Linked DNA regions of Homo sapiens: region 1 is linked to region 2. The links come from fine-mapping of genetic effects on gene expression. Tissue or cell type: whole blood. Region 2 holds a variant in brackets; the other region holds the start of a gene. All regions are shown on one strand. Distances are from middle to middle.

Region 1 (5,222 bases), 43 kb after region 2:
CAGTGGTCTGTGCCAAGCAGACAGCTGATGCTCAGTAACTGTTAGTTTTTCTCCTCCTTAACTACTCCGCCATGTGATGAAGGAAGAGTTCCTTTTCCTCTGTGCTCGGCTCTCTTTGCGATAACATTCAGAACATACATTCATTTAAAAAAACAAAACGAAAAAAAAACCAAGCGTCTTGCATGTCTAGAGCAGGGGCTGTTTAGCAGTAACTGGAGCCAAGGAAAAGTGGGACTCCTGTATACCATCTGGAGACAAGTTACACTGGAAAACTACAGAGTTCACCTAGATCTCTTCGCACTCTAGTCTTACATTGTCTCCAAATTTAGCTTTCAAGAAAGGTCTCTAATGATGTTTCTAACTTCCATAAGTTACATGAGGGGGGTAAGAATTTAGCAACTAAATGCAAAGAGGCATAGTAGGATTACGTGATTTGGAAGAAAGAATTATCCCTGCCAGACGGGGTGGCTCACACCTGTGATCCCCAGCACTTTGAGAGGCCAAGGTGGTAGGATGGCTTGAGCCCAGCAGTTCGAGACCAGCCTGGGCAACATGGTGAAACCCCATCTCTACAAAAAATACAAAAATTAGCTTGGCATGGTGGTGCAAGACTGTACCAAGCTACTCGGGAGGCTGAGGTGGGAGACTCACCTGAGCCTGGGAGGTGGGGGCTGCAGTGAGCGGTGATCACACCACTCCACTCCAGCCTGGGAAATAGCGCAAGACTCTGCCCCCAAAAACAAACAAAAAAAGGATTATCTCAATTCTCAGGCTTAAAATTTTTCATGGAATCTCAAGCCATCTTCAGTCAAGGCAAGAATTTAGAACTTTTCTACCCTCATCTTCTACCAAAATCTCTTCATATGCCGTGGAAGACTCTAAATCCTGTTTATCCTTATGGTCTAGGTCCCAAGTTCCCAAAAGATATCTAATAACTTACACTATTTTCCACACACAATCCTGGGAAAATGTTCTATTCCTCGGGCAGAGGGAAATCTGGCTGAGATCTCCGATAAGAGTGCTGTTTCCAATGGGAAGCAATGTGAATGGGCAAGGAAGGAAAGCCCCAGATGTGGTCAGAATAAAGCAGACCGGCTGACAACTAAAGCCACGCACAAAGGATATGTCTCCCTGGCCTTCTTCTCCCCCGCTCCTATTTCGTTTAATCCTAACAATTAGGATAACTATCATCACCCTTCTACAGTTGCTGACTCTGGAGCTCAGAGGGGGAAAGATCGTGCTCCACATCACAACACCGGTAAACTCTCAGAACCTGCATCAAACCCAGGTCTTCAAACTCACCCCTCCTGTTTTTCCCAATATGCAGTGCTACCTTTCATGGTCGGCCCATTTCTGGGAACTTCGATACTGTGCTTCTATTGCTCCAGGTTTAAGGAGCATTCTGAGCCTTGACCGGTTCTGAGCTTTGACATCCAACAATCTTATGGCTCTGCTTGGAACATCAGTCATTGACACCTCTAAAAGATTCACTATCCCCTCTGATACTCCATGCCCACCATCCATCCCCAAAACTTCAGAAGAAATGAGGTTAGGAAACCAGGACAGAGCAGAAAGTGCACTGTTCTACAAGGGCTGAAGATGAGTCACAGGTAACCCAGATGAGCAATCAGCCAAGTCTCTTCCACGGCCAATTCATTCAGTCCGCCAGGCACAAGCACTTCTCTCCCGAAGACTCACCTGATAAGAACACCAAAGTTCCAACGTTTCTCGTTGGAAATGAGCACAGAGAGGACACTGCTCACACAAGCAGTGTGGACGCAGCAAGCTCCGCGCCCCGCAACCCTGCACCGAGCACGGTTAACCTCACACTCCCACAGGCGGCAAGAACCGGGACGGCGATGCCCAGTCCAGGCGCTTCCCCTTAGAAGCCCCTTCGCCGCTGGCCCCTATCAGAAAGGAAAGGGGAGGAGGCTGGGGGAGAAACAACTTTATGCTCATTTGCAAGACAGGACCAAAACAAAACCAGCAAACCGAAGCCCTTTAGGAACACCGCCCAGTTCACGGCGCGTGCAAGTTCCGAGGGCAGTTAAGTTTTTGCAACACTTCCCAGCCCTGACCCTGCCCAAGCCGCGGCCGGAGGACTGAGGAAGTGGACGGTCCCGAGCGGGAGGCCCGCGGCAGGAAGTGGAAGCAGAGCCATCTGCGGGATAGGGAAGGAACCGCGGCTACAAGGGAGAGGCGGAGGCCGCCCCCACTTCCTCAGCCCCAGGCAGCCCAGGAAGCCGAGACTCCCCCAGGGAGTCCTCCCGGAGCGGAGCGGGGCCGCTGCCGGGGCGTCGCCCTCCGCCGGCCTCGGGGCGCGACATGTCCTGCCGCCGCCCGGCCACAGCCCGGCACGGAGGGAGCAAGAGGCTGCGGGCGTGCGGCGTACCCCACTCCCCAGCCCGCGCCCCACCCCGCCCGGGGCCCGCGGGCGCCGCGCCCTTACCAGGGACCAGTCCCGCCGCCTCCGCCGTCCGCACCCGGCCCGCAGCTCTTAAACGCGCCCCGCCCCCTCCCGGGGCCGGACCCCAGCCGTCCTCCACCGATTTGTCATTGAGCTGCCGGGCTCGCTTTCCCACCCCCCGAGCGCGCCTCCGGCGTCGCCTAGGCAACCCCTCCTCTCGAGAGCGCGCCCTCGCTTCCGTTCTTGCCCTCTCCTCGGAAGCCACGCCCGTCGGGGGGCTGTCAGCCAATCCGAGGCTGATTTTCCAAGCAGCGGGCGGCCGGGGAGGAGGTTTCACCAATGAGAAGCTGCCCCAGGCACGGGGGGGCGGGCCCAGCGCGCCTGCCCCGTCCCCCTCTGTTTCTCTCTCTGCCCCTCGGACACGCAGCTGGTAACCCTGCGGCAGTGGAGGAGCTGCCCGCCGGTATTGAGGGCGGGTGCGGGTGCACAAGGTGGGGCGCCAGTTGTGGGATTCAGGCCAGGGCTAGGACGAAGTAATGGAAAGCAAAAGCGAAGGACAGACCTGATCATACAGAAACAGAAGAAAATTACGAGGTGGCGAAGAGTGCTGGAGCGCGGCGATGGGGATGCCGCCCGGGGGTCTTGGGGCGGGACTCCACCTGCCGCCACCACTCGCTTCGCTGATGACATCCCATTAGCAGTAATGGAGTTAGTGAGTGCATGGCGGAGACTGGACCCAGGCCGCCTACAAGGGCCAGAATCCCACCCCAGCCATAGCCTCGAGGCAGGAAGTGCAGTGGGCAAGCTCCCTGCCAAAGCCCAGGAACGTGTGATTTTGTATCCAGTACAGCTTCATCTCGGTGGATTTTCCTTCCTAACCACCTCCTCCTCCACAGGTTTTGTGACCGTGCTGACCCCTACGCAGACCTCATGAGAGTCACAAGCCATCGCAACTGACAGTTTAAACGTCTGCCTCTTATCTCTAAGGGAGGGAACTATCTCTTATGCAATGTGATATCCATGGCTGCTAGCACAGTGTAATTAATTCTTTCATTGTTGATCATTGTAAGTTAGGATGCATGTGTATACTATATTGGAGGCTTTGGGCCATGATTAGATTGCTATGTATCTACCAGATCCAGTCCCTCCATCAGCATCTATATCAAAAAGCACAGAAGCTTTACCTTAGTCTTAAGTGACCAACTTAACAAAAAAGTGCAATCAGAAGAATATCCTAGTGTTAGCCTACTAAGTATTCTGTTTTTACCATTCTCATTCACATTTAAAACTTTTATTGAGTGCTAATCGTATGACAGACACTTTGCTAGGTACAGTAAGGAGATGGGGTAGGAGGCTTCTCAAAGAGGAAGCTCCCTAGTATTTATAACCTAGAAGAGGAATCAGACCCAAACCTTTTCTTACGGAGTAACAGTTAAGTGCACAGGTTTGGAGTCTGGAAGCATAGGATTAAAGGAGGGCTCTACCTTGTGACTAGCAGTTACTTAATTAGGAAACTACTTCTGTGGGCTTTAGTTTCACCAGCTGCCCAATAGCAGCACCTCCATGCTATAGGTAAGAAGATGTACATGCAAGTCCACATAGAGCTCTCAGTACAGTGCTAGGAACTTGGTGAGTGCCTCAGGAATGTGAGCTTACATTAGTGATTGCCACCAGAGGCCACGATGTACAGTCAAGTGTGTGATCACCAATCTGGTACAGCCTTATCTCCCAAAGCCCATCTGTATCAAGTGTGACCGCGTGCAGCCTGGTGGAAAGGGCCTGCTGTGGTGGTACCCTTTGTCAAATGCAAGTATAGAGAGGAGAGCAGCTGCAGCAGCCTACCCAAGTGAAAAGGGTATGATAGTTGAGGGAACAGGGTCAGAAATCAGGCCACAGGCCAGGATTCTACTGTTCCCACCTGCCCCCCATCCCCTAGGACCCACAGCAGATGCAGGAGGTTTCCCCACCTTTTCTGGGGTGCTGAAGTGCCATTCCTTTGCATTGGTAACAGGATGCACAGGGCTTTCTGAGAAATGCTGCTTTCATTCTCTGCCTGCCTAGAACTCGGAGGGGTCCTACTGGGACTCCTCCAGCAGGATCATCTATTCAGATCCTGGACATGCCAGACCCTGAGCTGTGCAGTATATTCAGAGAGGAGTGGCAGGACCCTTTTGGCGGGGCTGTCTCACACAGGACACCAATAGGGGAAACGTGTCCCAACGGGAGAAGGGAACCAAGAGGCCACCAGCCTCAGCTGCCTCTAAGGTGGCTCATTCCAGGTCTCAGGGGACCTCTTGTCTGCTGAGTTTCCCTACCAGAACTCTGACTCCCAGCAGAGCCAGGGGCTTGAGCAGCAGAAATACAAGATCCCCAGCAGGACTCCTTAAGGATGCTGTAAACGACTGCTGCCATGGAAAGAGCATTCTAGACACTCCATCCTTCTAAAGTATTTATTGATTACTGTGGGAGTCTTTAGTGCTGTCTGACAAACATTTCTACTCCTCTCTTGTGAGCACTGGAAACTTCCTAGCCCTGTAGTTGGGTGGAGCCATGTGACTAGCTCTAACCGATCACTTGTGAGCAGAAATGACACATAATCATTTCTAGGCTGGAGAAATTAATTGCCAATATAAGACCCTCCAGAGCTCTCTTGTCCTTGGTATGGCTACTGAGAATGTTAGGAAATGTGACTGCTCCATCAGCCAGGGTTTCTACAATGAGCACAGGCCCCCTACCAACCTGTGATGGACATTTAGAATGACTGAGAAATAAGCCCTTATGGTTTGAAGACACTACGATGTGGGAGTTGTTTGTT
Region 2 (5,222 bases):
TGCTTGGAAAAACACAGGGAGGGAGGATAAATTTGAGAGAAAATAAAGATGGAAAATATAGGAAATGGATGGAGCAGACATGAATCTAGGAGGTTCCAAAGGTGGTAACAGGAGCTCTGGAAGGAGAAAACAGAAGCGATCAAAGAATTTCAAAAATACTTTTTCTAGAGCTGAAGAGGCAGGAGTCTTCATTGGAAGCCTCTGCCGACTACCAAGCAGGATGAGTCACAAAACAGCCACACTTAAGATCCACAGCTGTGTTCATTTCAGACCCTGCAGATAAGGAGAAGGCCCCGATAACGGGAGAGAGGGAAAAGCCAGGGCCCCCACTGCAAAGGGACAACCAGGGAGGGCTGCACCAATTTGATCAGTGATGATGCACCCTCCTGAACTCTGAGCCAAGCCTTCCACATTCCCAGGGAAAACAATTTTGAACCCAGAATTTTACTCCAAGCTGAACTAGCAATCAAATAAAGGGCAAAAGTACCCATACTGTCATACATGCCGAGGGGCTCTGAAAGCTCTCCATCACGTCCTTCCCGAAAATGCACTCCAGCAAAACGAGGATGAAAACCAAGAAAGGAAGACGTGAAATTCAGAAAAGTGTGGAACTGATCCAAGTGTCCAATACAAATCTCACCTCCTACAAAGTAACCAGTCCAAATGAGATCGCGCGATCCATGAGCTCTAAGCAGAATAATCTTCAGAAGAATGGAAGCAGATTCCAAGCGATAGAGGAAGAAACTGGCATGAGGGGGAAGAGAGCACATGAGTGTTCTCTCAAGAAAAAAAGCAACCCAACATCAGGAAAAATGGCGAGGGGGTGAAGGGGCACTGCATAGGAAATAACCAAAGCTGAAGCCCACACATGGCGTGATCCAGGCAGCTGACAACAGTCCGCTGGACCAGACACTAGGAATGCTCCTTCAAGTGGCAGCCTGCACGGCACGGTAAAAGACATGATTGCTGCATGGTGCTCAGCTCGACAGTGAGCCAGGTTCACATAAGTGAGAATAACCGTATCATCTGCGATTGGTGTTCAACTTTCAGAATTAATGTACAGAGAAGCACCAACGCCTGAATTATGCTCACAGAATGGAATGTCCATGTCATCCATCCTGATAATGTAAATAAAGAAGAAAGAACTGACAAGAGCTGGGAAGGAGACAGGGTCAAGAGATGGTGGCAGGACTGCTCACACCCTCACCCTTCCAAGTGGAGAACCACACAGCGCTTTTGAGAGTTGACCAAATAAGAAAACAGAAGTTTAAATATACAGTTTTAAAGGTATAGCAGTCACCAAGAAACGAATTAAAACTGAAATTACTGCTGACGGTCATAACTGGGGGTGAGGGGAACAGGTGAGCTAAATCCTTGTCTGTTATGTCAAATCCTTACTGGAAAGGTCTGAGGTTGAAAAGAAATAATGGCATAAGATGATTATTTAGAAATACAGGAGTACCCAATGAATGAGCTGAGAGTAGGAAGGGTTAGATGTGAGCTTTGAAGCTGGAGCAGGGAAGAGTGAAACTGAAGACCTTCCATCACAACAACTTCCAGGCCACTGGACTTTAAAGCCCATGCAGTTAGAATTTTGATAACATAATTTTAGGCCGGGTGTGGTGGCTCATGCCTGTAATCCTGGCACTTTGGGAGGCCAAGGTAGGCGGATCACCTGAGGTCAGGAGTTCGAGACCAGCCTGACCAACATGGTGAAACCCTGCCTCTACTAAAAATACAAAATTAGCCAGGTGTGGTGGCGCATGCCTGTAATCCCAGCTACTTGGGAGGCTGTGGCAGGAGAACTGCTTGAACCCGGGAGGCAGAGGTTGCAGTGAGCCAAGATCACACCATTGCACTCCAGCCTTGGCAACAAGAGCAAAACTCCATCTCAAACAAACATAAAATAATAATTTTGGCCAGGCGTGGTGGCTCATGCCTGTAATCCCAGAACTTCTGGAGGCCAAGGCAGGCGGATCATGAGGTCAGGAGATCAAGACCATCCTGGCTAACACAGTGAAACCCCGTCTCTACTAAAAAAAAATACAAAAACAAAATTAGCCAGGCATGGTGGCGGGCACCTGTACTCCCAGCTACTTGGGAGGCTGAGGCGGGAGAATGGCATGAACCCAGGAGGCGGAGCTTGCAGTGAGCTGAGATCGTGCCACTGCACTCCAGTCTGGGCGACAGAGCGAGACTCCATCTCAAAAAATAGTAATAATAATAAACTTTTAAAATGAAAATATCGAGGTCAAGTTTACTGCTATAACATTAACATATTAGTACTTTTCAAACACTGTTAAGCTTCTATGGTGCTTTATTAGAAAGTAGCTCATAGACCAACAGAGGTGAGTTTTGTATTTCAGTTGTCATTTAAATTATATGCCAAAATTGACCTAATCTAAAAGACACATTTTCTCCTACATTTTTATGTCATTGGAATCAAGATGAATTCATTTAATTGGTAGGGTTCCTAGTGGTACATAAATTGTTTATGTTATCTTGTAATCAGGGTGCCTTAGATTTAATAGGGCACTTGCAGAAAATTATGTCAACATACTTTTCCCCACATTATTTGATGAAATCAGATTGTTACATCTATTTCTAATACTCTGCTCTGCTCCCTTGTACTCCAGCCGTATCCTGGTTGTTAGTTTCTTCCTGAACACTCCAGGATCCTGGGACTAACTGTCTCCTAGTCTGGAAAGCTCCTGCACCCAGCCCACCCATTCCTCACAGCGCTGGCTGCTTCTGGTCACCAAGTCTCAGTTTACACATCACTCTCTCGGAGAAGCCTGTTGGCCACCCAATCTAAATCAGCTCTATACCTTAGAGACATTTTCTGTCATATTACCCAATTTTCATCAAAGCAGTTATCCTGATGTTTTCATTTCTCTTTCCTTACTAAAGCTTAAGCTCCAGGAGAGTGGA[C/G]ATCTTGCCTATCTTGTTCAACACCACATCCCCAGCACCTAGAATAGAGCTCGACACCAAGTAGGTGCTCAAATAATTCTAAAATAAATATTTTTTAAAATAGCACTAAGCTATGGACATAACATCTAAACATTTAGTGACTGTGTTTCAAATCTATAAGCAGCATGGCTTCATTATTTTTCAATAGCTAAGAATCTCATAAGTTATTTTGTTAGAAGATCCATTTCTAATGGCTATCCAATTAAATTTTAGAAATATACTAATAGAATATATCAAGTATAATTTCTATAGCATGAAACAAGTCATAACATCTTTAATTCATTTGTACATATTCCAAATTTACCTTTTTTTTTTTTTTTTTTTTTTTGGAGACAGAGTCTTGTTGCCCAGGCTGGAGTGCAATGGTGCAACCTCGGCTCACTGCAACCTCTGTCTCCGGGGTTCAAGCGATTCTCCTGCCTCAGCCTCCCAAGTAGGTGGGATGACAGGCGCCCGCCACCATGCCCGGCTAATTTTTGTATATTTTTAGTAGAGATGGGGTTTCCCTCAGGCTGGTCACGAACTCCTGACCTCAGGTGATCTGCCCACCTCAGCCTCTCAAAGTGCTGGAATTACAGGCGTGAGCCACTGTGATCGGCTCAAACTTACCCACTCTTGACTAGAACTGGTATCAAATGGATGGCAAACTAGGATGAAAACAAAAAGCTTGTTTCAAAAATTCAAGAGTGTCATTACCATCAACTTTTTAAATTTTAAGAAGAGATGGAGGAAAGATGAAGTTTAAAGGACGGTTAATACTTACCATTTTATTTGCCTCAACTCAAGTATTAATTGAAATAGTTTGTCAGATATTGAAGAACGCCTGACAAGAATAATGAATAACTGGCCATTCCTTCAGTACTTGCATTTCACATGTATGACAAAAGGATAAAATAAAAAGGCTGAAATCCCGAGAAAGTCTATTTGTCTGCTTTTTTATTCAAAAAAAAAGCCCATGATTCTTTGGGAGGGGATACAGGATTGTTTTCCAGTCAGATCATAATTTCTACCATCTCTGTGACAATCATAAATTCAAAAGGTTCCCACTCTCCGCACCCCGATTCACTTTTGGCACCTATATATGAAATGTCGCTTCTGAAAAATGGGGAAAAAATGTGAATACTGGGCTCTTCCCACAGTGCTCCTTTCCTGATGAAAATCTTTCAGTTTGCTCAATTTAGAATACTGATGCAAGAAAGTTTAAAGATATGTCATCAATGAAAATCTTTTTCTAACTATCTGGCTATCTTAGAAAATAATTATATTAGAAACAGCAGCCAATTCTCAGAGGCAAAGGGGCGATGGCTTATCTCTCTCTACTTCTAATTTTAAATTTAGAATTACAGAGCAATTCTATGAGAGGTAGCAGAAGGTCTGGCACAGGCTCTGGCTTCATGATTTCAGAATACAACTTTAACTCATCACGTCTTTGGGAAGAGTGTGTGTGACACTTAGCAAGAGGCTCACTAGACCTCCGTGTGCAGTGATGCTGATCAGACAGACACATGCATTCACCACTAGTGGAGAGGGAGGGGCCTAACCAGAGGACAGGCAGTTAGGAGAGGACTTAGCCAAAGAACTTAAAAATATCTACACAAGTGGCAATGTGTGTCATTTATAATGCACACCATTCCTGAGTCTTCACTTGGTCTGCCAAAGAAAAGTTCCTACAGAAAAATCAGGATGCTTACAGGAGAAAAATAACCAACACAGATTATAATAGGCCAATGTTTAAATAAGAGGAAAACAACTCACAACTTTCACTTTTCATATGTGAGGAGGAATCAGAAGCTTGGTATTGACCTATCTGGCGCAATTCAAATTCATTTTTTTAGCTGTTTCAGATCCACAGGGTATTGCCAAGAAGCTTACCCAAAAAATCGGTGGATTTTTCAGTGTTCTTAGAGCTGAAGGGATTTTTCTCAGTACTACTACTAAACTGATAAAAGTGGGAGGGCATCTTACTCCACTCCCTCCTCCAAAACCCACTACAACATCTGTAGTTCAAAACGAAGGATGGTAATGTTATAAAACTAGGAACAAAATAAGATGCTATGACAATTCTTTCTCTTTGTAATTAACAGCTGTTTCCTATCTGTGGCACTTTATACATAGCTAAGCTTTTGGGAGGGAAGAAGGGGAGAAGAAAGAAATTCCACAACCTCCTGACAAAGCAGCCCTTCCACTTGCATGGGCTTATTTCTTCTGCCAGCCACAGAGTCACAAATATTTTTCCCCATTTAAAGAAGTTT

What was found. PIP is the estimated chance that this variant, and not a neighbour inherited with it, causes the effect.
Region 1: RALB starts here. The variant in region 2 is fine-mapped to the expression of RALB in whole blood (INTERVAL, PIP above 0.99).

The regions. Positions count from the first base shown.
Region 1 is chr2:120,250,208-120,255,429 of GRCh38, reverse strand. It overlaps RALB (RAS like proto-oncogene B), which reads right to left and starts at 2,578. Exons shown (of 5, transcript NM_002881.3): 1 at 2,450-2,578. RefSeq lists an enhancer at 1,526-1,795 and a silencer at 2,296-2,885.
Region 2 is chr2:120,293,378-120,298,599 of GRCh38, reverse strand. RALB (RAS like proto-oncogene B) reads right to left here. Exons shown (of 5, transcript NM_002881.3): 5 at 3,890-5,222. Among named protein-coding and RNA genes, the nearest start is that of RALB, 43 kb to the right of the region's middle. The variant C/G (reference allele first, on the strand shown) is at 2,932.